Linked DNA regions of Homo sapiens: all the other regions are linked to region 2. The links come from fine-mapping of genetic effects on gene expression. A gene starts in region 2. Each other region holds a variant in brackets. All regions are shown on one strand. Distances are between the middles of the regions.

Evidence for each region. PIP is the estimated chance that this variant, and not a neighbour inherited with it, causes the effect. A credible set is the group of variants that fine-mapping cannot tell apart.
Region 1: its variant is the best candidate, but not a certain one, in a credible set for the expression of HS3ST1 in esophagus mucosa (GTEx, PIP 0.51).
Region 3: its variant is the best candidate, but not a certain one, in a credible set for the expression of HS3ST1 in cerebellar hemisphere (GTEx, PIP 0.75).

The regions. Positions count from the first base shown.
Region 1 is chr4:11,473,313-11,483,730 of GRCh38, forward strand. No RefSeq gene overlaps it. Among named protein-coding and RNA genes, the nearest start is that of HS3ST1, 50 kb to the left of the region's middle. The variant C/G (reference allele first, on the strand shown) is at 4,872.
Region 2 is chr4:11,424,546-11,434,963 of GRCh38, forward strand. It overlaps HS3ST1 (heparan sulfate-glucosamine 3-sulfotransferase 1), which reads right to left and starts at 4,349. Exons shown (of 2, transcript NM_005114.4): 1 at 4,154-4,349. RefSeq lists an enhancer at 4,005-4,224 and a silencer at 4,315-4,494.
Region 3 is chr4:11,390,928-11,401,345 of GRCh38, forward strand. HS3ST1 (heparan sulfate-glucosamine 3-sulfotransferase 1) reads right to left here. Exons shown (of 2, transcript NM_005114.4): 2 at 2,223-9,186. The coding sequence starts at 9,078. The coding sequence ends at 8,155. Among named protein-coding and RNA genes, the nearest start is that of MIR572, 27 kb to the left of the region's middle. RefSeq lists an enhancer at 5,858-7,057. The variant TA/T (reference allele first, on the strand shown) is at 5,124.

The sequences.
Region 1 (10,418 bases), 49 kb after region 2:
CACTAGGAGAGTCTCTTCCTTTGAGTATGTTTGCTCTTCCATAAAACTGTGACAATCATATTGATGTCATAGCATTTTCCTGTGTTTAGGCTGATGTTGGATGCAAAGTGCCAAGCACACTGTTTAACATCATGTAAGTGCTCACTAAATGCCCCCCTTCCCTTCTTCCGTTCTCTTGCACTGTTCAGATATCGCCATGGAAACTCTCCTCTCTGCTTTCACTGAGGCCCTTTAAAATTTTTACAATTACTTTAACAGCTCATTTTTTTCATCTGAAATGAGAAATTCTAAAGGTAATAATATACCATATTTGCTGCTAACAGTAAATTAAATGCAGGGTCAAAAACTGCTTCTGAACTCAGCTAGGAAGTCTCGTGGATGCTTTTATTTGAAAATTTATTGCATTATTCTTGATACATTAAATATAACAAAATTAATTAATTATTTTCCATGATAATGATATCTCCATTTTATTGTTGTCATTAAGATACAATAATTATAATTGCCAGTTTTAAAACTCGATACCTAATATTTAGTAGGCCCTTAATTAGGTGCTTTGCAGTCATTACTTATAGTGCTCTCAACTGACTTATGTCAGCATTCTCTCCACTTTACAGATGAAGATATTGAGGCTCAGAGTGTCTGTGGGACCTGCCAATGGTCTTATTCCTGAAATATGGCAATGCAGGCTGTAAAAGTACTCTGTCTCCAAAGAATGCATACTTTGCTTTTTGGCAGTGATTTCGATGTGATAAAAATTCCATGTTTTCCATGAACTTCTGTATTTGACTTAGTATAGAGCTAAATTTAATTAACTATGTAATTGAGACAGGGATGGCTGTTGCACACCTCACATTCCATGTGCTCCCCTTCACTTCTCACTCTTCCTTGCAGTGAGGTTGAGGCCAAGTGACTCTTTCTGGCCAATGAGTTGTAAGCACAATGACACATGTTTCTTCCAGGCTGAAGCAATTGCAATCTGGTTTGCTTCTTTCTTCTCTCTGTCCCCATGCTGAAGCAACCTTAGAAGTGACATGTTAAGGAGCTATATTATAAGGTGATGCAAGCCTGGATCCTTGAGTCACTCGAGGGAGGGTCATCCCAGGATCCTAGGCCAACTGCATTAGACTCTGTGTGTGAAAGAAATCAACTTCTGTTGGGCTAAGCCACCATGATTATAAAGTTTATTTGTTACTGCAGGACAACCTAGCCTACCCTAATAGAATGGTGAATCCTTTTAGGTGACAAGTTATCATGGGTGGTGTAAGAAGCTCCTGATTTTGGAGGTCAAGGAGGCTAGATGCCTCTCCTTACCATCATCAAAGTGAAAACTGAATTCCATGACCTCTATGTCTATTTTTAGGCAAATTAAACATAGTCTTGTTATTATTATTTAAGGGGATAAGTGTTAAAAATGAACCTCTTCCTTTTCTTTATTGAAATTTAGTTTAAGCTGAATGAATGAAACTTCCACTGCAAGCAAAGAGGATAGAAGAGTAATCCTCATGAAGCGGCTGTTGTACACTCAGGAGGATATGTTTTAAATAATGTTCCCACAAAAAGCACCTGCAAACATCAGAATCTAAAGGAAAAAAATCACAACAAATGAGATTCAGCCTGATTAGGGAAAATGATTTTCTCTATCACTTTTACACTGCAAGGCCAGGCTTTGTCTGAATCTTATTAATACGAGAGCGATGCCAAGATAACTAAGGCTGATAAAGAATAAATACAATTTGACCGGATTCAGCTACAAATATCAGATGTTTTGAAAGATTATCATAAGTGGCTCAAATTCACTTAATTCTTTTATAAAACAAGTTTTTGTTGGACTATAAAATATTTTCCAATTTCCCTGGATGACAAATGGCAAAAGAGGTTAATTAAAAGTCAACTGAAGACTACTTAGGCACTTAAACATGTAATTTCTTGAGCTTCAAACTTAAATAGCTCAAACTAGTTAAAAAATAGCTTATTATTGTAATTCATGTATTTCCTCTTTAAATATACTTTTCTTAGTTTGATTTAAAATCTTACTAAAAGTTTGAAAAAAAACTAGTCGTTTAATAATCATTCCGTATTTGAAGGAATGAATGAGAATATACATGCAAGCACAGAGAAGGGTACAAGGGTCTCTTGCGATCCTCAGAACACTAATTGCAGGCTTCTCTGTCCCTCTTTACTTATATTTTCTTTCTCACCTCTGTGTCCTCACCCTGGCACCTTTTCTCTCTCTATGTTGGATTATCCAGCTGTTACACATCTGTCAGAATCCTATTACTTCCTCATGACCCAGGTTAAATTGTTCTTCCTCTGAGGTGCTCTTTCAGACTCTCATATTCTCTCTCTTGATTTCCTGTTACATTCTTTGGGCAATTCCCTCTTCATTTCAGGAAGTTTATAATTTTTACTATTTTGTTAATTTTATTTTCATATTTATATTCTGCTATGCACCGAATGCTTGTGTTTTCCCAAGATTTATATATTGAAGCCTAAATGTCAATGTGATGATATTTAGAGGTGGAGTCTTTGAAGAGTAATTAGATCATGAGACTAGAGCCCAGATGTATGGGATTAATGCCCTTTTAAGTGGCTAAAAATGACCAGAAGTCTTTCTCTTTGACGTGTCCTCATGACAATGAGAACATGACCATCTGTAAACCAAGAGGAAAGCATTCACTTTGATCTCAGAACCCCAGCCTCCTGAATTGTGCTAAATAAATGTCTATTGTTTAAGGCACTTTATCTATGGCATTCTGTTAGAGCAGCATGAACTGACTCAAACATAGGCCTTATCTCTTCCTTTTTACTGTGTATTTCCCGGGATTAAGGAGGATACCTAATGCCTTGTACAGCATCCCTTGCTTGGGCTTGGTAGTGGAAGGAAGTATCAAGTTTCCCATATTGTGTCTATTTCAGAATCTATGTTCAGTTCTGTCTCCACTGGCAAGTAACTTTTCCCATAAAGAGAAGGAAGAATAAGCACATACTCCAGCCTAGAAACAAGGTCAATTTTCAAACTCAAGGCCAACTATGGAATTGAATGAGGCAGAGTTGTATGGCCATGAAGACAGATAAATAATTTTAGCTGGGGTTTAAAAGTGATTAGCAGACATTTTCAGAGTATACTGTCAAAAAATAAACACTTCTTTATTAATATTTGAAGTTAACTTTGAACACTTATTAAAGACAAATTGAGGATGTTCTGCAATTAGTAATAGGACTCTGAGAAACTCTACTCATTATGGATAAGCTGTTCATGCAACACAACAAATGAGCCTTGTTTTGCCTTCAAGAATGCCTATCAGAACTTTTAAGACTTGGAGGCCTCATGTTCTCTCAAGGCTCCAAGCCCTTTTACACATTTCTCATCTGCCTGGAGCCACCCTCTCTTTACCAAGGTAACTCCTTTGCCAGGAGTTTTCTTAAAAACAAAAATATCACTGGTACACAAACAGGCACATAGAACAGTAGAACGGAATAAAGAGCCCAGACACAAGGCTGCACACCTACGACCACCTGGTCTTTGACAAAGCTGACAAAACAAACAATGAGGGAACAGACTCCCTATTCGATAAATGTTGCTGAGATAACTGGCTAGCCATACGCAGAAGATTGAAACTGGACCCCTTCCTTATACCATATACAAAAATCAACTCATGTTGTATTAAAAAGTTAAACATAAAACCCAAAACTATAAAAATCCTGGAAGACAACCCAAGCAATACCATCCTGGACATAGGAGTGGGCAAAGACTTCATGACAAAGACACCAAAAGCAATTGCAACAAAAGCAAAAATTGATAAATAGAATGTAATTAAACTTAAGTATTTCTTCAAAGCAAAAGAAACTATCCACAGAGCAAACAGACAACCTACAGAATGGGAGAAAATTTTTGCAAACTATGCGTCTGATAAAGGTCTAATATCCAGCATCCATAAGAAACTTAAACAAATTTACAAGAGAAAAACTAACAACCCCAAATTAAAAGTGGACAAGTGACATGAACAGACACTTTTCAAAAGAAGACATACATGTGGCCAACAAGCATATGAAAAAAGCTCAATATCACTGATCATAAGATAAATGCAAATCAAAACCACAGTGAGATACCATCTCACACCAGTCAGAATGGCTATTATTAAAATGTCAAAAAATAACAGATGCTGACAGCATTGTGGAAAAGAACATTTATACACTGTTGGTGGAATGTAAATTAGTTCAACCATTGTGGAAAGCAGTATGGTGATTACTCAGAGATCTAAAAGCAGAACTACTGTTTGATCCAGTAATCTTATTACTGGGTCTATATCCAGAGGAATACAAATCATTCTACCATAAAGACACATGCACACAAATATTTTTGCAGCACTATTCACAAGAGCAAAGACATGGAATCAACCTATTGTTTATCCATCAGTAACAAATTGGATAAATAAAATATGGTACACATACACCATGGAATACTATGCAGCCATAAAAAAGAATGAGATTATATCATCTTTTGTGGAAACATGAATGGAGCTGGAGACTATTATCCTCTGCAAATGAACACAGGAACAGAAAACCAAATACTACATGTTCTCACTTATAAGTCAAAGCTAAATGGTGGGAACTCATGAATACAAAGAATGGAACAAGAGACACTAGGGTCTACTTGAGAGTGGATGGTGGGAAAAAGGAAAGGAGCAGAAAAAATAACTATTGGGTACTAGGCTTAATACCTTGGTGATTAAATAATCTGTATAACAAACCCCTATGACATGAGTTTACCTGTATAACAAACCTTCATCTATATAAAATAAAACAAGTGAAGGTTTTATTTTATTTATTTTATTTTTTATTTTATTTATTCCTAAAATAAAAGTAAA[C/G]AATTTTATATGGATAAATTATAAAGGCTTACAAATACACTCAAACATACATATGTTTGTGTGTGTATACATATATATATGCATATGTATATTTATGTATATATGTTTTTAATAGCTCTAATTAATTACAATTCAAAGTGGTAATCAATAATTGCAATGCAAGTTTGCTCCAAAGTACACCTGTGAAGATGAAAGGAAAAACTCCATGAATAACTCAAGCTCCTTATTGAACCAGTGTGAAGCATGTATTACTAATATTAAAATAACTTCTAGTAAAAAATTTTACCAGGGTAACTTCACACATCTTCTCAAATGTCACTTCTGCTGGGAAGCAAAGACAGATCTTCTCCCGTCTTTCTTCCCAGCTTCCAGCTAAGTTAGTTGTTTCTCTCATGTGTATCCTGAACTTTCACTATTATAGTGCTTCTTGACTCTAATTCCCTTTTTAATTGCCCCTCTTCTCTGATAAACTATAAACTTTATGAAGGTAGGAACCAAGCCTATCTCTGATAAACTATAAACTTTATGAAGGTAGGAACCAAGCCTATCATCTTGTTAGCTGTTAAATTTCCCTTGCCTAGGACATTGCATTGACATGGTAGACACTGAAAATATCTGTTAAAAAAAATAGAGTTGTCAGTCTTAGGCAATGAAAGAGGAGAAATCCAGGCAAACCAAGCCAGAGTCTTGTCTTTCAATTATCTCTGGCTAAAGTTTCTCACATTATTGAGGAAGAGATTGGCATTTACACTAGAAATCTACTGTACAGTAGTATAGTACAATGCATTTGTTAAAAATATGATAAACTACTTAGAGTTCTAATTTTGTAGATTAAGTTTAGTTACTTTCATCTGCATGGGTTGCTTCATCCTAAAGTTTTCTGTAAAAGAATTTGAACAAATTATTTCATAGAGAGATGCCTGGACTCTGGGGCCCCTACCAAATAATTGCTGTCAAGTTTTGTCCAGAGAATCGACATTACCATTTAAATGTCTACCTTACATATATTCATGACTAGGAATAACTACTAAGGTTAACACAAGCTCGTAGTTGTTGAGTACTTATTATGTGCTGGGCACTGTGTTAAGTAATTTGCATCAATTATCTGAGAGTCATGACCCCTACACCAGGTTGGCACTCTTATCCTAATTTATTAATTTATATACCTGACATTTACTGGGTTCATAACGTGTAAGATATTGAACTCAGCATCAGAGATACAATAGGGAATAAAATAAGTATCAGTTATCCTGGAACTTACATTCTAGTAGAGGAGAGGAGAGAAATGAGAAAAACTGAAAATGCCAATTTTATTAGATACTAAGAATGTTATAAACAAGTGTCAGTAGAGAAGAGAGAAAGAGTTCTAGGGAGTACAATTTTGCATAGAGAGTTCAGGGAAAGTGTCTCAGTCTGTTTGGGCTATTATAACCCATAAACCATGTGGCTTACAAACAACAGACATTTATTTTTAACTGTTCTGGAGGCTGGAGATTCCAAGATGAAGGTGCCAGCATATTCGAAGTCTGGTGAGGGACTCGCATTCTGGTCATAGATAGTGCCTTCTCACTGCCACATGATGGCATCGTCACTGTCCTCACATGGTGGAAGGAACAAAGCAGCTCTCTGGGGCCTCTTTTATAAAGGCACTAATCTCATTCATGAGGGCTCCACCCTCATGACCTAATCACCTCCTAAAATTCCCACCTTCTGATACCATCACCTTGGGGATTAGATTTCAGCATAGGCATTTTGGGGGGACACAGACATTCAGACATAGCAGAAGGCTTCACTTATAGGGTGCATGTGAGCAGAACCCTGAAGGAGATAGGAGAGGGAACCACTCAGATATCTTAGGGAAGAATATTTTAGGCAAAGACAGCAGCATGTGCAAAATTCTGACATGGGAGCATATTGGAGTAGTTAGGGAATAGCAACGAAACCAGTGTGGTTAAAATCAGTGAGTGAACAATAAGCAATTGTGAAGAAGGGGCCAGATCATGTAAGACCTTGTTCGCTATTTTGAGGATTAAGGCTTTATTTTGAGTGACAGATGTTGTTGGAGGATTTTGTGCAGAAAATGATCTGGTTTACATTTTAAAAGGATATTCTGGCTTCTGTAAAGAGGATAGCTTGAGTGGGTAAAGAGAAGAACTAAGAAGTTTAAATAGGAGGCTATTACAATAATCCAGGTAAGAGGGCATGGTGACTTGAAACAGTGTTTTATTGGTGGAGATGATGAGAACTGCTCAGGTTCAGTATGTATTTTTATGTGGAACTCACAGGATTTGCTGATGGATTGGATGTGGGTTATGAGAGAACAAGAGAAATCAAGGATGACACCAGAGTTTTTGCCCTGAGCAACCAGGAATATGGAGTTGCTATCTACTAAAATGCTTAAGATTGAAGGAGGGACATATTTGGGATAAAAGAACAAGAGATCGGACTTGGACTCATTAAGTCTGAGGTTCCTATTAAATATCCAGTGCAGATGATAAGTACGGGTTGGATATATATGTCTGGAGTTCAGCTGACTGCTCAGGCTGGAGACACAAACTTGACAATGCTTAATATAAGAATGGTATTAAAAACCCTAGAAACTGAGTTGACTCATCCAGGAAATGAGAGTTGAAAGAGTAGCAGTTCAAGGACTGAGGCCTAGGGCTGCCCAACATTTAGGTATTGTGTTCATTCAGGGAAGCAGATGCTCAGACACTGTTAGGAGGGCACGAGGCTTCTTGGGACATTTTGCCTGTGAAAGACAAAGGGGAAGGAAGTGGAGTTGCACAAGGAAAGGCTTCAGACCACAAAGCAGATCTGATAGCTTGAAACAGAAGAGTCTGTGGGAGGCAGGATTGGTAGAGTTAGCCTCCAATTTTGATACAGCTCTGATAAGATATTGGCCAACCCAAGGGAAAAGGTGGCATTTTTGCAGAGCCCCACTTTGGATAAACATGGCCAATCCCTAATGCTCTTGCTGTGCTCTGTCCCTGATTAGGGGCTTCTGACAAATCATAGTGTCAGCTTGAAATCTGCAGTAGACCCCAAACACTCTGCAGCTGAAGCCTGGTTGCAAATGACACTGCTTGCAACTAAAAGGCAAGTCTTTTCTTAAATGAAAATCTGAGCAGCACACTTCCTTGGCTGCCACAGATACCACTTGTGGCCATACGGATGCCCCGGCACAGAGAGACTAGGCAGCTAGGCTGAATTCACAGAGAAAGTAGGTGGATTTAAGTTCTGGCAGCCTGATTATGGATGCAGTCCTCTACTGTGCATGTAGGACAATGTCAAATAGTGAATTAAACTTTATTTGACATTGTACCTAGAACTCAGTTAAAGAAGCACTACAATTGGTTTGGGTAGCTGTGTACCAATTTGATAGCTCCCCCTTTTATCTGGCTCTCAAACTTTCTTGGAATGTCTGCCTCTTCTCCTTACCTGATTCACCACAGCCAGCCACACAAACACTACATAGTTGATTCCTGAGCCAAACTCAAAGTATTTGCAGATAACTCAAAAATGTTGCCTCATCAATGAAGCTCTCTCTGGTTCTCTAAGGAACGGTATTCTTGTACTACTCTAAAGCTGCATAGCATTTTATCCTAATTATCATTATTACTTTCTACCTTCCATGATAAATACGTGCCCCATTTCCCTATTCTTCAACATCAGCCCCTCCTCCTGCATTGGCGGACCGAGGGACTCAAGCCCTATTCCTGACCCATTGCAGGCTCCTTCTGCTACTCTGCAGCCACAGGTCTTTATCAATCTTCCCTCCTTTCTCACTCCTTAGGGCCTTTTTCACAAGTTGTTCTTTCTCTTGGAATGACTGCTTCTTCTCCAAGTTTCAGCATGAGATCTCTTCATTGAAAACCTTTCCTCTTCTACCTCCTACTAATTTCATCTAGATGTCTCTCCTCTGTGCTCCTACTCACACTATACTGATGGCATTTAAAGATTTTTGATGATGACCTGAAGTCAGAAATGCCTTTTACAGCATGACCTGGTACACAAACCTGCATATACAGAGCCTCCTATGCAATCAGAACACAGTTGTTTTATCAAACTCTTATATCTTTACTGCAGTATAACGCACCCTGATATATTCTGGCCTATTTTATTCCTTTAGAAAGTGCTGTCTGCAGCCCAGTAAATTGATTTAATGACCTGCCAGTGGGTCTCAACATACAGCATGAAAAACACCACCCTTCATGAGCCTTTGTTAATATACTGGGCTCGCAATGCTGACATCATTAGTATAGTTGTCTATTTCTCCACGCAGGCAGTAAATGCTGAGGGTAGAAATCGTATCTTATTCTTGTTTTTTCTTCTAGTTCAGCACAGGAAATGTCTAAGAAATGAATAAATGAATGCATGCAAGCTCTGAGGTCTTGACAATAACCTACTTCGAGTTTGAAAATGCAGCACCGGAATGTTTGCGTTCGACTTACCAGAAGCTTCTCCCTTGCCTCTTGGCTGTGAACCTCCACAGCGCCCTCCCACAGTATGTCAATGGTGTTGTTGGATCAGCATTCCCCCTATTCTGGAATGTTTTTCTCTTTCTGTTCATTTGTGTTGTTTGCATTGGAGGTACCCCGATCTTAACAGAGCTATTTCTCTGACTTTAGGTGATGACCCAGGGATGGGCACCCAACATAAGGTGAGCCAATTTCTAAACCTGTGACCAGAATGCATGCGAGTCAGTTTCTCTCCAGGCATGGGAAGACAAGTTTTCTGCCACATGGAGGAAGCCAGACCATAGAGTATGATGTAGAGACCACAGAACGAAGGAAAGGTAGAGATAGAGTAGGTATCCTGGCACCATTTCTAAACCCCTGGTTCCAGTTTTTTAATAGCCAGCAGACCCCTACATATTTCCTGTTGGGTGATTCAGCTGTCAAGTGACACAAGATGCTTCCAGTAAGTTCTTTATTCAGTGGAGTTATGGGTCTTAACAATACCACTGGCTTTTGTCAGTTTGATGTAGATTTCTGTCACTGGAGAAAACTAAGTCCAAAATCACACAATCCAAATGTGCCAGAGAAGCGTGTGGCTGGGTAGACAGTGACTTGTGGTTATGACTAAGTCTCTATTCTAGACACCATCATTTCCTCAACTCTATCAGGAAAGAGGCCTAGAATGTTTGCTTGGGAATGCAAATATTCGTTAAACCAAGAGACAGGTCATGGTTGTACCAGAAAAGGCAGAAGGGGCTTTTTGCTTTTCATTTATAAACTAGAATAGGTCGTAAAAATCATTTTACTGAATGAACTCTGGCTTTCTTGCCCTCATTTTTTTAATCCATAAAATCTACATAGTTCTAAGTTTTGTTGTGAAGATTAAATAATATAATAATGTGAAATACGTAGCATTTCACATTCTTGACATGGAGTAATAAATATAGCTCTTCTAATTATTCCTTTTCTTGTAAAAATCATGACATAGTCTTCTAATTTTTAAGTTATTTCTTGTTTCAAAAGTTAATGTCTTAGATAAAGCAGAGATTTCCTGTGCCGCCATCACTCTTGTTATTTAGCGTTCTAT
Region 2 (10,418 bases):
TATGGGTTGCCTCTAGGAATTGCTGAGAAGCTGAAAAGCCAGGATTGGAAAATGAGAAGGAATGAAAGGAACCTGGGCACCAGAGGCACATCAAGATGGTGTTGCAGAAAAGGCACCTCTGGGACCACAGCTTGGGACATGCATACTGCTGCCAACGCCACTTGATCCATGATCCAAGGTGGTAAATAAACACTCCAATGTCCCTGTGCCCTTTAGCTAGTCTTTCAAGATTCCAGGCCCCAGGTGGGATCATTCAACTAAGCCCTAGTTCAGGGCTGGGAGATATGGACAAGGAGAAAGAGGCCCATCTCCCACAAAAAAAAAAAAAAATCCTTCTATGAAGGGAAGGTTGTGTTCCCTAAATAGGATGTTTGGTTCCAACTGCTTAGAAGGGTTTTAAGTGAGTCTGAAGAGAGAGGGCACTACAAGCACGACTGTAGAGTGGAATAAGAACAGACAGGCCTGAATTCTAGTCTGGAATCCTTTGTACCTTTAGAAAATTAATTAAGTTTTCCGATCGGCAGATTCCAAATCCTTAAAATAGAAATGACGCCATCTGCTCTCCAAGGTTGCTGTGAAGATTCAGTCCAATCACTCATTCAATTATTCCAAATATACTTATTGAATGTCTAAGTGCCAGGCAGGCACTGAGTTAGGTTCTGGAGACACGTTTGGAACAACACCTAAAATGCAATGATGAGGAGCCAGTGCATTATGCTGATGAAAGATTCAGACAAGGGGGACCCGGGTCATCTCGTGACACTGGTCATGTTTTACTTTTCCCCAGTGGAGTCACTCCCCATTTGTGACTTTTCTCCTTTTTTAAAAAAATTATTAATTAACATCAGGGCCCTCTCTTCAAACAGATTTTCTTAAGACATGTAATGTGTATTATGTTAAAAGGAAAAACACTCTAAAAATTGACTGTGATCCTGAAAACAAGAAAGGAATCATTCTGAGAAGTAGTGAGGCCCGGTGCTTGTAGCATTCAGGTGGAGTGATCACAAGAAGAGACTGGCCAATTAAAAGAAATCTCTCCCACTTAATGTTTAGCATATGTCATTTACTCAGACATATGCAAACTATGATTAAAATGAACATTAAAATAGATCTACGATAAAACTTAATTTTTTGTATTTTTTACCCTTTACAATTGCACAAGTGTTCTCCAATCGGCAAGATGCATTTCATATACATTTTCTCACTTTCTTATAATAATCTTTTCATCACTGTTTTGCAGAGGAAGAAATTTAGGGTCAGGGAGGGAGAAATTGTTGCCCAAGGTCATGGGGCAAGAAGTTGGCTTTAAATCCAGCTAGCACTCTCCTGCCTTCTGCCATAAGAAAAGAGCAGCCTCAATTGAAAGCACCAGGTCAAGTAGCCAGGTTGAGGGGAAAAAAACTGGGAATAGCCCTGATATTTTCCAGCACTAGCTGGAAAGTTACTGCATTTCCCTGGAAGCTGCTAAAAAGTTACCACTCTCCTGCAACAACTGTCTCTAACACAGGGACCCAGGCTTAGATGCAGGCCCGGAAACCTGGTGCCTGAGCACTGACCCAGCCTACAGGCTCAATTTCATCAGGACACCAGATACATCTTACTGTGCCTTCCTCCAAACTTTAGCCCCCATAGACAGACATGATTTAGCAACCACGGTGGGGATATGCCATTGTGGGTAGCTGCTATGTTCTCAGAAAGGCAGTGTGCATGAGTGAAGCAATTTACACCACCCAGGCCATCTTTCTAGCCCCTTCCTAGTCACCATCGAGTTTCAATTCAAGGCAAGAGAAGCTTCCATGTGGCTTTTCCCTTCAGAGGCCCCCCCCCCAACCCTCACAAGATTTTTCCAGTAAAATAATTTCTTATTTTAATAAGAAAAGTACATGCTCCAACTTTTAGGGGGACCCAGGGGGGGGGCTTGAGGCTTCATTCTAGACATAACCACAGGAAAGTAAAGAACCCTTTGCTTTTTCCGATGCCATCTCAAGATGCCAATTTCTCACCAGCTTCTCAGAACAAAAATCTCCTATCTTAAAACTACAGAGCATTGTATACCCTGTGGCATCACAGAGGATCCACAGTCTAGAAGCACAGCTTAATAAGCCTCACTAAGGAATCTTCATCTATGCTGCTGTTGTAATTAACTGCTTCCACTTAAGAGTGCTTAGTCATGAAGTTGTCCATCCCTGTCAAACTCAGCTGAAAGAGTTAGATGGGCTAACCAAAACCTGGAAAGACTCTTTTAGAAGCTGTTCTTTCTCTGCTTAGCGCTGGAGAAAACCTTATGTAACACAATGGTCCATTTCAATATGTTATTTCTGCAATCCTGTGGGGGAAAATCTAAGCGCTGGATGTACAACGGGAAGGGTAAGGCAGGGATTTGCAGCGGAGCGCGCGTCTCCTGGAATTTCAGTAGGTAAGGCTTATTCTAATTGCACCCAGTGTTACCCAATATTACCAGGAATGCAGAAAGCAAGAAAAAAATCCGAACGTCAAAGGATGCGCTTTGCTTTAGAAATGCAGGGAGGCAGAAGTTGGGTTATTTCTCCCTCCTTTTTTTTTCTTTTTTTTTTAAAGATGGAATTCCTGGAATTAACCCTTGGGTGGAAGCATTTCAACAAAATAAAATGAGATTTGCCTGCAAAGCGAGAACGCACGGGTGGGAATGAAGGATCCTGCCTGTGCCAGGCTGCTGCCTCAGCAGTGTCCAAGCACCCAGCGCCTGAAAGCGGGAGCGTGGGGACTCGTCTGGGGACCCTCTTCCGGGGCTACTGGCGGGAGGCGCAGCCGAGCTGGTGGTGGCGGGGTTTCCCTCCGGGGCTAGGGCTGAGGGAGGAGAAGAGGGCGGACTGGCTCCTTCCGTTCTCGGCCACCCTCCCCGCCACTCCTTGAGGCTGCTCCATGCTAACAGGAGACTGTTTCTCGGAGCGCAGCGCAAAGACAGTGGATTTGGAGTGGCCTCCCTAGAATCCCCCCAAAAGCATCTTGGCACAAGTTGTAGATAAAAATAGCTCATGATAACATTGTGGGAAAGGGAGGAGCGAGACTCGCGCAAGGCGAGGCAAGGGTACCACTGGATCTGCAAAGGAGGAGGAAGAGGGAGGATGCAACCCTTGGCCCAAGAGAGCGCCCTGAGTGTGCGAGGAATCGCTGGCTCCCAGGGGAGGGAAAGAGATGGAAGACCTATAGCGCCTATAACTGCAGAGTTATAGACCTATAACTGCAGAGCCCAGCACACCCCATCCCGCGCCGGCACCCGGCTTTGGCTCCAGCTTCTTCTTCCCATCATCCGCCTACGTTCTGGGTCTGTCCTCCGCTTCCTGGGACAGGCTGGGGCTAGAAGGAGGAGCAGCGCGCCGTCCGCCCCCTGGCTGGTAGAGCGCACCTGGAGAGGTCAAGCTCCGCGAATAAGACCCTTCCTGGGAGCTGGGGTCTAGGCGTTCCAACCGCGGGTTCGCACCCCGCCATCCCTCACCTCCATCCGCTGCCACTACCCAAGGGCCCGGAAATAGAAAACCACGAAGGGGGAAAAAAATCAGTAAAAAGTAACAAGAAAAAAATCAAGACCCTCATGTAATTGGCATTAGGGATGAGAGGTTTATTGTCAGGGCTGTCACCTCAATCTCTCTCTTTGGGAGATGCCTATCTCCAACCAAATGCAAAGGCAAACCCGACCAAGGCTTCTCCACCCCCAAAGGCTCCCTCAGCCGAGTTACTTTTGCGGGCTGTGTCCTCGCCCCAGTTTCTGGCCCCAGGTGGTACCCAGGATCCGTTGAGTGCTGCGCTCTCGCTGCCCTACAGGGTCCTATGGTGAAGCTGCGGTCGCGAAGCGGCCGGCAGGAGCGAACCTCACGACTCTGCAGGGGGGGAAAACATCCAACCCAGTAAGAGTCAGAAATCTGGGTCCCTGTCCTTACAGATCAACCGGTCCCTCGGGACTTCCAGAGCAGAGGTGCTAGGGCAGGAGGTGAGGAGGATGGGAAAATCCCCAGCCTTTGCTTCCTGGTTCCCTCTGCATCCACTCCACCTGCTCCAGCCTCGATTCTTCTTAGGTTCTGCACTTGCCCGAAGTCCAGAACGCCAGACAAAGGCACCTCGGAGCCCTCTACACCTGCGTCCTGCCACTCTCCCACCCCGCGCGCGCCGCACTCACCTGAGCCGCGCCTCTGTCCAGCCCGTCCGGCGCCCTAAATAGGCTCCTAGGCTGGGCCATGGGCAGCACTGCCGAGCACCCGCGGCGGGTAGAGCAAGTTTCTGGATGGCCCGGGGCAGGCGGGCGGGGAGAAGGCGCAGGCACCCACTGAGACCCGGCTGTCGTGGCGGCGACTCCTGGCTGCCAGGGCGCAGAGGACCTTGCAGGCGGGCGTTTTGGTGCTCAATCCCGAGGAGGGGGAGGAGCGGGAGGAGGAGCGGGAGCAAAAGGAGGGGACGGAGGAGGCCGGGCCCGGAGGGAGAGCGCGTTGGGCAGAGGAGGATCGCGAGCGCCCACTGCTGCCCGGCCCGCTCGGGTGCCGCCCAGAGTCCGGCCCGCTAGGTGCCTGGTGCTCCGCTCTGCGCTCAGCTGCTCCGCACAGCCCCGCCTGGCACGCAGCTCCAGCGGCTGGTCGGGTAGTAGTCGGTCCCGCCCACCCGGTGCGGTGGCCCCTGGGGTTTCAGTCCAAGGGGAGGGACCAGCGCTCCAAGAAGGTGAGGCTGCTGGGATGGGTGACTCCGCCGTCACTGCAAACACGGGACGTCCCGTCTACTCCCTTACGCCTGCTTGGTCTGAGCCCGAGTCTACCTCTTCTCTAAGTCGCCAGCTCGGCACTTGTACCCGGGACCTGTGCTCCTCCCACGTGAGTCTGCACCATGCGTATTCCCTTCCTGGCAGGTGACCCACCTTAGGCGCTGGCGCTCCTTCCGCCCCCCGGGAAGCAGGAGGTGCCATCCTCTCCAATTCGCTCTGCAGCCGGACTGGGACCGGAGCGGCGGCCTGGGCCAGAATCCGCGTGAGGAGCCGGCTTCAAAGAGCGCCCTGTCGCCATTGAACACTCCTTTTCCTTTGGTTTAGCGTCGGAGAGCGGACGCCAATTTGCCAGGAGAGCGCGGAAAATTCAGCTTTTTTTTTTTTTTTTTTTTTTTTTTTTTTCCGCTAGTGCACTAGGATTGCAAACGTCAGCTCTGAAATAAAAAGCAGGATATTTCTGCCCCGCTCCTCTATTCCGGAAGCTGGGAGGTTCTGTGGGAGAAAGGACCTGCACCCAATAACTCAATTTAAGATTTAAGGTTTTGAGGGGCGTGGGGTTGGAATCGCCTTGGAGAAACGGGTTTGCCTGCTTACCTGAGCCAAAGGAAGTTGCCCTCAAAGGCAGGTCAGCAATCATACCCCGCCAAAAGCAAATGCACATCAAAGTAACTTCCTTTAAATGAGATTACTGTAGTTTCCATGTCTTCCACATTAGTAAATAAATATTTGGAAGACTTCGAATTTGTGATTTACGTTTAAATATATTTCACCAACATTGTTTAATTAAAAAAAAATCCCATCTAAGAGAAGGTTCCTATAGGAAATTGGCCCTTTAACTCATACACAGATTACCCTCGGCACTTTCAGAAAACAACACAGTGACCAGTATATTCTGTCTTTTTGATACAGCCAGAAGCACCCTGAAAGCTGAGACCTAACTGTGCTTTTGGAAAATAAGCTTTTAGGAGTTGAATGACCTTGTCTACTTCTTTTAGTCAGAATAATGTTGGCATGTCTATTTTAGGTTAAAAAAAAATACAAATTCTAAAAAGTGACTTTAAAGGCCCACTTTGAAAGCCTTAGCATTTAAACTAACATTAGATTTAAAAGAAGGGCTTTTCTCCCCCATTATAGGAAGCTGTGTAAAATCATGTGTGAGGTTGTGAGGGTCAAATGGAAGTCTAAGATAAAGTTCTGCCAATTACTGGTGTCTTTAAGCTTCCACCAGCAGCCAAGCACAGTGCAGATCATGAGTCCTTCAAAATACGGGGTGGTTTTAATGCTCTAAGTTGGTATGATTACTTTTTCTAAAGAGCTCAAAGTGCTTTGGTGCCATAGTATGAATTTCATTACCCATTGTGAGACACAAAGGGGGTTAGCAATGATTCTGTTTGCACCCTGGAAGCCAAAGGCAGGTTACTCACCCACTTAGTTCCCTACCACAAGACCTTGAAAGAAACTGGAACCCCAGGTCTCCAGCCCAGAGATTTTGTTGGAAGTTTCCATTTGCAGGAAATGACTGCAGGGCACATGTGGGAAGTGACAGGAATTTGAGGACTAACATTTTAGTTTTCCTCATTTCTTTTTAAATCTGAGCAATTGTTCATTGATCGATAATCTATGTTCTTACATTCAGATAAATAAAAACACCAACTGGCTATTTTGTTCTTACTTAGTTTTATGTGTATGTCCAGGCATTTGCCACTGCTCCTAAATAGCTCTCCCTGAAGTCTTCTGGTCATGAGTTAGGTTTCTTATCCAGAAGCTCATGTAGTGCCAGAGCTTAGCTCTCCTATGACAACACAATCACATTATTGAAACATCTATTTAGGGATCTGTCTTCTCTAATAGATTATAAACGCCTTGAGCTTGGGTATCGTGATTTAATGATGAATCCTCCATGGTATCTGAATCCCAGAATCCTACAATCCTGCATGGTATCTGAAACATACTATGCTCTTAAAAAAAAAAAAAAAAAACTTTGTAAATGGAACTTCCCTCAAGGAGTCAGGGTTTAAGTCAAACATGTTTCCCTTTCAAAGCCGTGGGCATGAGAATAGAGGCTGTTAGGAGACACAGTAGTAGTTGACTGCAAAAGTGTCTGTCAGTCAGTTGTGTGGCCCAAGACTCTTTTTATCAGTTCCAACAACTGAAAAATGAGAGGGTTTTAGTGGAAGATCTCTGTACTGCTAATATTTTAAGATCTCGAAGTCTTTATTGAGCACCTAGTATGTGTACAACACTATGCCAGTTACTAAGAGAGAGATGAAAAAATAAGATATCTCCATTGCCCTAAGAGAGCATAAAATCTTATCTCAAGGAAAAACAAGGCAAACACTCCTAGCCTACCTTTACAGACACGCACAGACATGAGTTAACACAGTTGTAAACTGTTCTAAAGAAGATAAAGGCTCAAGGAGTGAAAAGGCATGAAATAGAAACAAAAGCAACTGACCTATGAGTTTGGGCAATAATCAGTAATAATACCAGCTAAAGTGTATCTAAGGCTTATAGTGCCAGGTACTATGCAAAATGAATCATAGGAGCTGCACCTTTTGTTCATTTTACAAATGGGGAAACGGAGGTTTAGGAGAGTTTAGTGACTCGTTCAAGGTGACATACTAATAAGTGGTAGGGCTGATATTCAAAGAGTTCTCACCTGACTCCAAAGTGCATCTTCTCAACCAATATTAGAGATTATTAGCCCAGACTTCCCTATTTTATAATTGAGGGATTTCATTAGAGCACTAGAGGAGGAAGCTACCCTTCCAGTAAAAACTAGACTCCTAGTCTAGTGCTCTATGTAATTAAGTAATATGCTTATGTTTGCTATTTTTCTGGTTTTTCTCTTTCCCACAAAATATGTAATAGGAGACGGGAGGTCAGGAAAAGGGGAGAGAGAGAAAAAGAGAGAAGTTGCTTCTTTTGAAGATGTCCAGAATCCACAGTAGTCTACCTGCTCAGACTCAATGGGGTTTTATTTGTAACCCCCAGTCTAGTGGGCAGCCCTGTATAGCCTTTCTTCCCATCATGGCTGTTTGAATCTTTCAGGTTAATAGCATGAATATTAAAGACTCCAGTGGGACTCTTTATCCACAAAGGAAATTGGGATCAGGTTAAAAATCCAATTTTAATAAACTTTCCAAGTCCTGATTTAGATGAGGTACTAATGGCTCTTACTGCTGAATCACCTTAAAAGTCAAATGTATTTTTAAAAGGGAAGCTTGTTGGGTATTGTTTAATTGTGCATTGCACATTCCTGTCTTAATAGAAAAAGATCATCTGTAAAACTTATGAGAGCAGATAGGAAATGCCACTATCCACAGAGCCAGTTGGGTAGAGGGAAGGGCGTTGGGTTTGAAAGATAATTTTCACTCGTTTGACCAAAACAAAGAGAGCATGATTGCACTGTGTGAAAATGATATCCTCGAATAACTCCACTAATTTGATTGTGCTGAGGTCTAGAATTGTTTCTATTTCTTTTGATTTGCTAATTAGCTAGAGCAGTCCGCTAGTGAGAGGGGAAATGAGGGTCACAGCCATAAAACATGGAGGATTGTTGTTCCTTCCAACTCAGCTCACCCATCTCATGCCTCCCCAACCATCCCGTCCCAACGCCCAATTTTGTCTCTGTGTATGTAACAACAATCCATCCATCTATGACAAATTGAGTGATTCTTTTCTGAAAACAGGATTTTTAAGATTATCTACTTTATGACACCAAATTTGACACATCTTGGCATATGTGGTTATGAGGTCCAGTTATGACTTTTATGATGTTTTCCTTTATGAATCCTGCTCCCTGCCTTGCCAAGTTAAAATTATATCTTATGATTACATTAGTATAAAGGTGAGTATATTTTCTTCTTTATTTAAATATCTTCTTTAATCTAAAAGTTTATCTTTTTCTGATTTTTAGAAGAAATTAAATCATTTTTGGGAAGCCCTCAAGGTACCATAAGCTCTGGGCAGTGTGCCTAAGACTTCTAATGGAGAATTTAGCCCTGTGCAGATGATATTGCAGAGGAGGAATGCTTAGTTAATTTAGGTAAAGTATGCACAGTAAATACAATTTCATAAAAAAGCTTATAGTCTATGGTGTTATGTAAACAACTATAGACAAATAGAATATTGCTTTTATTTGTTATCCTGTGTTAAACTGTGGCCAAAATTACACACATCAGTGTTAGAAAAATTGCAGTATTGCAGGCTTGAAGTGGTCCCCTTGTTCAAATTACTGGCCCCTGCTGAGTGCTGGAATACCTTCAGGGCGATGGAAAATTGTGGCACTCTCTTTGATTTTAGATTTTGGGACCAAAGCTGGCTGATCTTTTGATGAGTCGGTCTTAATGATTTGCTCTTTTAGGCCTTATTCAAGGATACTGGGAACCTCACACTCTTCAGAAAAAAAAAAGTTTTCCTCCTGGCAGGCCTATCAGTTCAGTTGAATCAATATGTATTAGGTACCTCCCATATAGCAGCCTGTGTGCTAGGTACATGGGTAGAGATTTATTAAGAAGAATGAAATTCAATCCCTTACTTAGGAGCTCACAGATGTGCATTAACAGAAAAATTACAATTCAATCTAATCATTCTCATGAGTCCCTAGTTCCATTTGTAATAGAAGGTCCAAGGAGCATTTGAACTGTGACTCTCAGACCCTTACCTCTTACTCTGAACTCTCAACTTCAATCAGCACATGCTGTTTCTAGCAGCTCTCTTCTGTCTTGGAGTCCTCACTGAAGTCCTCTAGAGTATGTCCCTATTGTCCCTGAAAACTGATGGTGCTGGCTTTTCCTTTCAAAGCCTTGTTTTAATTCTAGATTTAAAATAGCACTAATGCCACAAGAAGTCTCTTACACAATGGTAGAGTTCTCTTTCCATAGACTTTGGAACACTGTTCTTTTGGAAATGTTTACAATGACACTTATAAGAACTGGCTATATATATATTAATCTGCTTTGTGGTGGAAATAAATATTTTGTAGAATGCTTTGAAGCTTAGGCAATTAGTTCTTTTTAACAAAAATTAATTTAATTTTCTTTTAAGTTCCAGGATACCTGTGCAGGACATGACATGCAGGTTTGTCATGTAGGTAAACATGTGCCATGGTGGTTTGCTGCACCTGTCGACCCATCACCTAGGTATTAAGCCCCACATGCATTAGCTATTTTTCCTGATGTTCTCCCTCCCTCCACCCCCTTGACAGGCCACAGTGTGTGTTGTTCCCCTCCCTGTGTCCATGAGTTCTCATTGTTCAGCTCCCACTTATAAGTGAGAACATGTGACGTTTGGCTTTCTGTTCCTGTGTTAGTCTGTGGAGGATATTGGCTTCCAGCTCCAACCATGTCTCTGCAAAGGACATGATCTCATTCCTTTTTATGGCTGCATAGTATTCCATGGTGTATATGTACCAGCAGTTAGTTCTTAAATTAAAAAAAAAAGCTTTCATATTTAATCAAGTTAGGTTATTTCAATATATGCACCATAATGATTATTGTAAAGTAAGTTCTGTAAACTAAGGAAAAATAACTATTTTGTGCAATCTCAGAAAAATCTACTAGATGGTATGGGAAACAAGAAAGAGAAATGAAGAGGCAAATAAAAACATGGCATTTATTGAGTAGCTGTATGCTGGGAGATTTGAACATTCTCCTTTCCTTTCCCCTAATTTTACGTACAGAGAAGTAAC
Region 3 (10,418 bases), 34 kb before region 2:
TGGAGAGCAAGGGATTAGACAACAGATACGCAGTGTGATAGATATTACGAAGTAGTTCTGAGTTCTCCCTTGGATTCTGCTGCTACCTACATTACTTTACTCCTCCAGATCTCAAATCCTTCTATAAAAAAAGAAGTTTGGCTAAAATGACCGGTATGTTCCCTTTCAACTCTATCAGCTGATGGAGCCGCAGTTGTGTGTATGTGCTTTTTGTTTTTTTTTTTTTTATCTCAAAGGATATAATTAAAATTTGACAATTGTCATCTCTGAATAATCTTGCTGTAAGGCTCTGGTTAATATACAATGGAAATGCATTCCTTGGGTAACAAAAATCCATACATTTCGTTTGTTTTCAAGGGAGCATACAGAAAAGTGAGCATGAGGCAAGATGAATAGACTAGATAATAGAATTACACTTTGAATTAATTACCTATTACCTAACAAATTACTACAAACTTAGCAGCTTAAACCAATATACACCTATTCTCTCAACTTCCCTATGATAGGAGTCCAATCACATCCTACCTCTGCTGTGGCCTTCCCAAGCAGCGATCAAGATTTCAGACAGATGACTTTCTTATCCAGAGCTTGGGGCCCTCTTTCAAGCTCACGTGTTGTTGCAAAAATTTAGTCTTTGAAACTGGAATATTGAGATCTTTGCTTTCTTGTTGGATATTGGCTGGGGACACTCTCAGCTACTACTGGACACTGCAGTCCCTTGCTACATGGCCCTCTCAAAGGCCTCTCACAGCATGGCAGGTGATGCCTTCAAAGCCAGTAGAAGAATCTCCCCAGTGTGCTAAGTTGGAGTCTTACATAACACAATGTCATTATAGCCCATCACCTTTGCCATATAAAGTACTCTAACCAAGAGAGTAAGTGACTCATCTTATTTATAACTTCTGCTCATATTCAAGGCGAGGGGTCTATGCAGGGTTTGTACACAAGTGGGTGGAAACCAAGGGAGCCATTCTAGAATTCTGCCTGCCACAGCCTTTTTTGCTGATATTTATATTAAGTTTCTGGTCTCTATCTTTGCCTTCTTTGTGTTCTAGCTCTTTTTATGAACAAACATGTTGTAGAAGAGATTCTCTTTTGCATTGACAGCATTATAACCTAGAGGTAAAGCATTTTATTTATGAAGAGAACACGCAGGAGATAAATCTGGCTCTACTATTTACTAGCCATGTGACCTTAGGCAAATTACTTAATGTCTCTGTGCTTTGGTTCCCCATCCATATATAAAAGAAGCGAAACAGTAGCATTTGTCTCATAGGTTGATATGAAGGTTAAATGATATAATACCTAGGTTTTAATAAACACATGAGTGTTATTCCTTTACTTTCTGTCGAAGATGATACCAGCCATGAGAGCTAACTAGGAATTAGAAAGACTCACTTTTACATATTTGGAGAGTTTATGAAATTGTGATCTCTTATATGTCCATTGTCCATTTTCCATAAATTGTTCATAGAATCTCTGTGAAGAAGGTATAATTATCCCTATTTTACAGAAAGGTACTGGAAGTTCAGAGAAGTTAAGGAAATTGCCCAAGGTCACATAGCTGTGAAAAAGGCTGAGATAAACTTCTAAATTCATGTCTTCAGAATCCGAGGTCAGCGCTCTTTTCAGTATGCCAACATGAGAAAGTGGTATTAGACCTGTTCATTATGGCACTGTGTGGTAGAACTCAGATGCATGAGAGAAAGCTGGGGGATGTAGGTCGAGGTACAGTAAGTATGAATTTCAATAGCCAGTTTGGAGATATAATGGGTTACCTTGGAGAACTATTCATTGGTTCAATATTCAAGAAGAGGTCATATAGTAAGGCATAGTGAAAAGAGCTTGGGTATTAGGGTGATCTGTTCGATTAATAAATATTTATAGCTCCTATGTCAAGTATGGTTACTATTTGATGTGGATCTAATGGTAAACAAACACAGGAAGCTTGAATTGATTATTTCCCCTGAGGTTTGTGAAGATTACATAAAACAGCTTATTTTAAAGTACCTACCAGTGTCTGGGCCAGAAAGGCTACTTCCAGGAGGCGGGCCAGATCATGAGGCTGCGATGTGGTAGAAGGGGCTTTCGCGTAAAACTGACAACTAGTCTAGAGTTACCCTTCAATCCACAAACAAGTATTAATACTCCTTACTTACCATGTACCAGGCACTGTGTTAAGTGCCAGAGGGTTGCAATCAAAAGAAAGAGACATCCATGTATTAGTTCTAAGTGGAATATTTATCAAACAATAGAAATACAAGATGTTGCTACATAAGATGGAGCAATACCTTCATATTTGTTGGGCCCAGAATTGTTTTATGAAGTTGAAATTTAAGTTTGATATTGATGCATTATACTATTTTGGTAGTCCGATAAGCTAATAAAAGAGCCTACTACTTGGTAACAATTTCAGCCATTATTGAATTTAACACTTTGCTATTTGCTAGCCAATAAAATAGACTCATTCTCTGCTATATCTCATTTAATTGGAAGAATTCTAATAACTCCGTGGGTTGATCACGTTATACATGTAAAATACAGAGAGAAGAAAACATGCATGCAAGGTTAAGACTTTAGAGTGGATGGTCTAGAAGCAAAGTCTGAGGGGGGATTCCTGTTTTCTTGGGAAACACATTTACTGAGAATAGGGTAGCAGAAGAAATGAGTAAGGTAATGTGGGAAAAGGATGAAGTTTCGGAAGAAATAAGTAAAAGTACAGTTTCAGGAGAAGTCTAGCCTCAGCCTGATCTCACGAGGAGCTCTGAGCATGAGTTGCACCAGAGGTTGTCCTGCCTGGAGGCAATGAGGGTGGACTGTTACCCTACTACCCCCATGCCCCATCCCACATGGGTCAGTCAATCATTAGTCATGCCCTAACCCTAGGAAAGCAGGGGAGTGGGGTGGACAACATTTCTCAGGCATCTTCAGGTAAGAAAACTCCTGCCAACTAAGAGAAATCCTTCAGAAAATAGTACAGAAGACAATCTTTGTGGCAGCTGGGGTTGAGAGCACTTCCCTGGTAAATGAGCTCTGGATGGAGCATTAACAGCAATAGCTACAGTCACATAGCTGGGAAGCAGAGGAGGAAAAAAGGCAGCGCATTTCTGCCGACTGGTTCAAAACCAGTTTTGGTCTGTCTCCTAAAGTCCCAAATGTTTTTAACCACTAAGTAACATATGCACTGGGTTTATAGTTTTTACCTACTTTATCTCATTGAGTTGGAGTTTTCCCCCAACAGAGTACAGTACATATCTGCCCATTTTTATGGAGAAGGAAATGGAGGTTCTCAGAGTCTGAATCTAAGATCCCATGGTCAGTGATTGGTACAGCTAGGATGCACACCCAGGTCTTCTGGCTCTCTCTCTTTGCTGTTATCTAACTGAGAAATTTGGGCAAAATAGAGTAAAGGTCTTGACATCAGGGATAACTAAAGCACCAAGGTCATTTTCTACATCAAAACACTTTAGTGAAGCAGCTAAATCCGATGATGTCCTCTTTAGCTTTGGCCTTCTCTCACTGTGTGCTGTTTGGAGAACTCTGTTATGTTGCTCTGGCCTTTAACTCAGGCTCAGTCTTCCGAAATGAGCTGCTGCCGGTTAGGAGCATGTTTTATCACGTCCCTGTTGCATCAAATCCCAGCCACTGCTTTGCTTGAAGGTAATCTTGATATCACCCTAACTGTCCAACTCCAAATCCTAGATGCCCATAATTTCCCTTACAGGCTCTGCCTAATAGACAGATGCATATGCTTTATATCTTCCTCCACTTACCCACAAATAGATGGACTGAAAAGGAGCAGAGACATCGGAGACAAAATTTCATTTGTAAGAAGTAATGGCTCTATCAACATGGGCAAGCCCTTTAATTTCTGAGTTTATTTTTCTGTAAAATTAGTAGCCCATTTTCTACTTCCTAGGGTTGTTATATAGGTTAGAAGCAATATATTTAAAATACCAAGCACATGGCAGGTGTGCAACAAATGATAGCTATTTTTATGCAACAGATACACCTGCACAGGAGCCAAATTCACATGGGTGCCTGCTAAGTAAGCTTCCAACACTCCAGCCTTGGAAAGCAGTAGCTTCTCATTGAGTTTAACACATTTGACATGCCACTCAGACAAATCTCTTGCCTACCTCTACCCTCTACCCCCAGCCTCTCCCCGTGACCACTGTCTTCATGTCTCAAGCTTCCCTTGTTCAGAATGCCCTGCTCTGGTGACACTACTGCCATTCGTGCGTGCCCCAGCTTTATGGCAATTCCTCCATGAAGCCTTCCCACAGGAAGGTCAGGGTCTCTGTGGCCCACAAGTTAAGTGACCTGCCCTGACATGCGACCTCTGGGAAGATTCTCTATTTCTTAATATTTCTGAGAAATGACATTCTGGAGAGGGTCTCTGATATTTTTCACCTTCTTTTGTGATTTGTGATGTCAACATTTTCCATTTCTGGACTATTTCCCTGGAGTGAGCAAGAATCCTTTCTTCTGAAAAAAATGACTTGAAGTCAGGATTACTTTTTTATTTTTTTATTATTAATTTATCTTTTTTTTTTTTTTTTTTTTTTGAGATGGAGTCTTGCTCTGTTGCCCAGGCTGGAGTGCAGTGGCATCATCTCGGCCCCCTGCAACCTCCACCTGCCAGGTTCAAGTGGTTCTCTTGCCTCAGTGTCCTGAGTAGCTGGGATTACAGGCACTCGCCACCATGCCTGGCACATTTTTGTATTTTTAGTAGAGATGGGGTTTCACCATGTTGGTCAGGCTGGTCTTGAACTCCTGACCTCGTGATTCACCTGTCTTGGCCTCCCAAAGTGCTGGGATTACAGGCGTGAGCCACTACACCCGGCCAGGACCACTTTTTAAATCTCAGTTTCCTCTTCTCTATAAGGGGGCTAGTTGATTTCTCTCAGGAATGTTGCTGAACTGAATGCCAAACCATGGAACACATTCCCCCACCCATTCTATACACAGCTAAATGTCTTTGCCTTTGTACTCCAAGACCCTCTGTACTTTTATTAAAGTCCAGAACAAACAGTTAATGACTACTGGTTCCTGTTGTATTTTCTTTTTATATTCTTGAGGACTCAATACCATGTTGAGCATGTGGTAGGGGATCAAAAAAG[TA/T]AAATTTTAATGAATAATGGTGACCTGTGACACCACCCCTGTAAGCAGCAGGCACGCTAGGCATCGGCCTCTCCTGCCCTCCATCTCCTTTCAGTTGGGTAAGCCTCCAAGCACAGAAGGAGTAAAGCACCCTGTGCTCAGAGGCATGTCACTTTTCCTAAACTTGCAAACCTTCAGGTTGTGAGCTGATAACCAAATGGTGTTAAAAGGATTTCAACCCTATCTGATTCCAGGAGGAAGGGAAAGGGAAGGGGCTGTTCTGACTCTGGAGTGTCAAGTGTGTGAATATTCCAAATCTAATAGCTGAGGCTTGGTTCAGTTGTTCTCACTTGCCTCTCTGGAAGGACCCACCTAGATCCCCCAGGCTGCTCCCGGGCCGGGGTGGTCTGGACAGGAGACCCACCCCTTCCACTGACACCTGTCTCTGTTAATGGAATTGGTAGAAGGCATGTTTTGGAGGGACCGGGTGCTATTAGGCTCCTGAGTCACTGCATTTTGGCCCTGTAAGGACAGCCCAGGGTCTACTACAGGGCCTCCTTTGAATTTGACAGTGCTTGGTGAGATCTAGCAATAAATACCTTGGGTAAGTCTGGAGTGATGGTTTCTTACACAGTGTACCTTCTCAATGACTGGCTGGGGTTGTACCAAAAATGAATGAACAGATAGTGCCACTAGGACCTCTGATCCCTTGCTCATGGTAGACTCATTTGAACATTCCTTTAGCCACGACTCTGCACCCCCAAATGAAAACATATTGAATTTACATTCACTGATCATTTTACACTGGACCACCGCCTCCATCGACTATGCCAGTCCCAGCAGCTAGATTATATTCCATGTGCTGGTCCTGTCTTCCTCCACTCCTCCCCGCTGCCTCTTGCATCCACAGTTCATGCTTCTACCAGACCATCCCTGTCAGGGGACAGGAATTTACAGGCAGTTTGCAAAGAGCATCTTCTTCAGTCAGAGACTCTCATTGCAGTTTCCTTTCAGTCACCATATTCCTGAACAGGCTTGGAAACTTGACTTAACCTTGCTGGGCCCTCTTATTTCTTCAGCTCTTCAAGGAGTATGGTAAAAGCAAGATCCAACGATGTGCTGCAGAGGGAGGCTCTCTGCCTATTGAAAAGTACCATGTCCACCAGGGGCCTGCTGTAAATATTTCTGCTACTTCCTCTGGGGGAGATGATGGCTTAATGACAACTTCAATGGATTCTAAAGAGGAAGGCATCCTCTCTGCTCTCTGTTCATGATATGGGGTGGGGCATAGGCCATGCTAAGGTCAGGTCAGGCTGGAGCTGCTGAAACGTACCAAGGTGACTCACTTCCCTGATAACACTGCTGAGAAAAATGCAGGCTTCTTCTTGCCCTTCCTGTATCTGGGACACACCTCTTAGGATGGAAGATATTTGGCACCTGGGAAGAAATGTTAAGTCAGGTCAGGAAGAACTGGCTCTGAGTCTGGGCTTTTCCTTTTGAGTTCAGAAAGAGTTGGGTAAAAACTAAATACATAAATAACCTGTGCTTTGGCTCTGAGTAGCCTCTAAGCCTGAGTTTATAGTCAATGTGACCTTGGGCAAGTTTCTCATGTTCTCTGGGCCTAATTCCTCCTCTTTGAAATTTCCATAATAATATCTGCATCCTGGGGTTGCTTGGAGAAATTTCAATGAGTTCTTAAGTGTAGGAGATGATTAATAACGTCCATTTCTGTCATTTTCCTGCGGTATAAACCATGTCAGGAAGCCGGTTTATTTTGCTTGTTTGTATTTTCTCTTTTACTGTAATGAATGTTTTATTTTTATTAAAATCCAATGGGTTTAATTCTGTAAAAGGCTGACTGCATGAAGAATGCATGAAAAAACTGAGGATAAGAAGGGTTTATGTGACCATCTCCAACAAGCTGGCTGCTCAGGGGCAGAAGTAAAACTGAACTCCAGCCACTCCTCTGGGGGCAGGTACAGTGGTTCTCTTAGGTGCTACCTTCAACTCTGCCCTTTTCTCTTTTTAACTTCAACACTTGGGAACTTACTTTTTCTTTCACATTCAGGACTCCAAATTTAGAGTTGATTTTGAAACATACACATATTTATGTCTCAGTGCATATGGAATATATGTCTATAATGCCAATGTGTCTTTCAGGAAGTAAGCAGACTTTCAGACTAAGCAAAAGACTACTACCCTTTTAGTCAGCCTTTCACAGAACCGACAGGATGAAGACACGCATAGATTTCGCAGTTTCTCTTTTCTATTCTAATTGGCTTTCTGGAGGCCAGCTGCCACCTGGGGCAAAGTATCCAGGTCCAAGATCATTCTGAAGGCCAAGGGTTTAATCCTCTTTATTATAACTGCTGAGATCAGAAGCATGTGCAAATATTCTTTGAGGTCAAGATGGATCCCAAGAGACCTCTAGCCAGTCACTAACTGCTTCTCCATCCTGAATATTGCTTTGTTTACTTGAAGTTTACACATGGGAATGAGTAAAACTGTGACCTCCAAAAATGACAAGGAATCGCCGAGGAGATAAATCTTACAATCCAAGTAAAAATAAATCTGATGATCACAATGAGACATTAAAAATTAAAAAGAGCAATGCAGAAAGGAGAGGGGAGAGAGAGGATTGTAATAGCCATGAAAAACATGTTTTTTTAAGTAACAAAAGAATTTAGATTTTGCAATGATTGCAACACAGACAGCTATTTTGAGTTGGGGGCAAGTTAATTATATTCAAAAAAACATAGCGTCTCCAGAAAAAATCTTTTTTTTTTTTTCAGTGAAATAGTTTAGTTCCTTCATATAGAGACATATTACACAATGTTAACAACCATGAAAAACAATACAAAATGCCCTCCATTTAACAAGTAGAAAAATATAACTAGTATATATGGCAATTGTGAATCTAATACTGTACAGAAGTACTTTATGGATTTTACAAATAAATTATACCTTAAATGCTTTTTTAAAATTCTTTTTCCCCTCAGATGTACACCAGAACTTACAGTAGGAAAGTTTCTGAGCTTAGCTTATTGCAAATCAGTGCCAGTCAAATGTTCTGCCAACAAGCTCGAAGAACTTCTTATTTGGCTCATGAAAATATTCGTGCAGTTTATTGAGTAGTTTGGGATCGACTTGGGGGTGCGCCCGGCCTTTGGACTCATGTAAGCAGCGGTCCCGGCCGCTGTCCCGCAGGCAGTAAAAGCCCTTGGTTTTGTTAAAGTAGAAGTTCGAAGCATTGATCTGCGGCGACAGCTTTAGGAACCTCTCGACCTTTTGGATCTCAGGGAAGGGGTCCCTGATGAGGCGGTCGCCGTCCACAATGTGGATGTGGCGCAGCGGGAAAAAGCGCAGCCAGTTCTGCATGTGCACGTGGTAGAGGCTGCGGTTGAGGGCCTTGTAGTCCACATTGAGCCTGCCATCGCGCACCAGGAACTCCTCGATGGACGGGTAGGGCTTGTGCTTCTGCATGTGGTTGTAGAACACTTGGGTGTAGTCAGATAGCACGCGCTCCGACGGGTCTCGCAGGATGAGCAGCAGCCGGATGGACGGGTTCATGCTGTAGACTCGCTCAGGCACTTTGGGCGACGTGAAATACGCGGGGGTCTTCTCCACTGTGAGCTGGTGTGGCCAGGAGAAGGGCATCTGGCTGAGGTACCAGCCCAAGCCGTGGCTGTAATGCTCCTCCCAGTCGAAGAAGTGGACCTCGTTCTCCGCGGCCGCCACGTCGGGGTGCAGGCTGAGCATCTCCAGCAGTGCGCGCGTGCCGCCCTTGCGCACGCCGATGATGATGGTCTGCGGCAACTGCTGGGCAGAGCCGTTTGGGGCCACGCCATCGCGGACGTCATCCTGGAGGGTCCCCGCTTTCCGCAGAAGCTCCTGCTGGCCTAGCTCGGCGGGGCGGGAAGGCACTAGCTGGGGCTGGGCCACCAGCAGCACCGCGCCCAGGAGCAGCGCGGCCATGCTGGACACCACGGTGGCTTCACTGGGCCGCGCGCCGCTGGGTCATGAAGTGCCGCAGCAGGGAAGCCTCCTAGTCAGTGGCACATGGGCGTTTCAGGCCTTCAATTACTAGGGAACAAAAAGGGAAGATATTAACATATAACAAATACAGGGATAATTCAACTAACAACTCTGTAGCCACTCTGTAGTGAGGCCTATATTCACCTCCCCAGGACTCTCAGTTTCTTATCCTATACAGGAGCCGATGGCAAACATTTTCTGCAAAAGTCCAGAGAATAAGTATTTTAGGCTTTAGGGGACATACTTTATGCCAACTCCAACTCCAACCGTGCTATTATAGATGAAATGCAGCCATAGACAACACACAAGGGAATGGGTGTGGTTGTGTTCCAAGAACACTCTATTTATGGGCACTGAGTGAATTTCATATAATTTTCACGTGTCATTAAATATTATTTTCCTTCTTACTATTGTTATTTTTTGCAATCATTTTATATGTTTAGCTGGCTGCATACAACCAGGCCAGGTTTGCCTCCCTAGTCAGAGCATGCTAACCCTTGCTATAAAGGAAAGGGTTGGGAAGACCCTTTGGAACTCAGCAAAAATCAATAAAATATCTACTACTCACCAGTCCCTGGCAAAGGGGCAGGTGATATAGAAGCAGGCTTTGTTCCTGCCCCCACTCTTCCAGCCAGGGGCTCCTAATCTAACAGAGCATGTGAATTAGTATGAAAGATTGCATGATTAGTCCCAATTCTTCACCTTGTGTCCAACTCTTGAATTGGCCTTGCTACTAGCATATGAGCAGATGTGACAACGTATCAGTCCCCAGCCTGGCTGCAAGAGGCCTTGTGTGTTTTTGCTCACCCTCTTTCACTATTGGCTTTGCCATGAGAAGAATATGCCCTGGCTAGCCCATGGTCCCAGAGGGAGGATGAAAGACACACAGAGCCATCCCAGCTCATGAGTGAAGATGCATGATTGTGGTTTTAAGCCCCTGAGTTTTGGAGTGGTTTGTATTGCAGCGGGAAATTGGCAAAAGTTAATTGACGCAGCCTGACTGTAGGCATCAGGGAGATATATGTTATGATTGTAATTTTGGTAGGGTACTATGAAGACACATGTTCATTCATTTTGCCTAAAATAATTGGGGATGGTTTCACAGTGGAGGAAACATTTGAAATAGGCCTGGAGGGATAAACAAGTGAAATTACTACAAAGTGCAAAAAAGCCTTCATTTGTACAAAGCTTTACTATTGATAATGTGGTCTCATACTATATTCAGCTATTGTCACTACAACCCTACACTGTAAGGTAGGAAGGCAAGGCAGATGTCACCG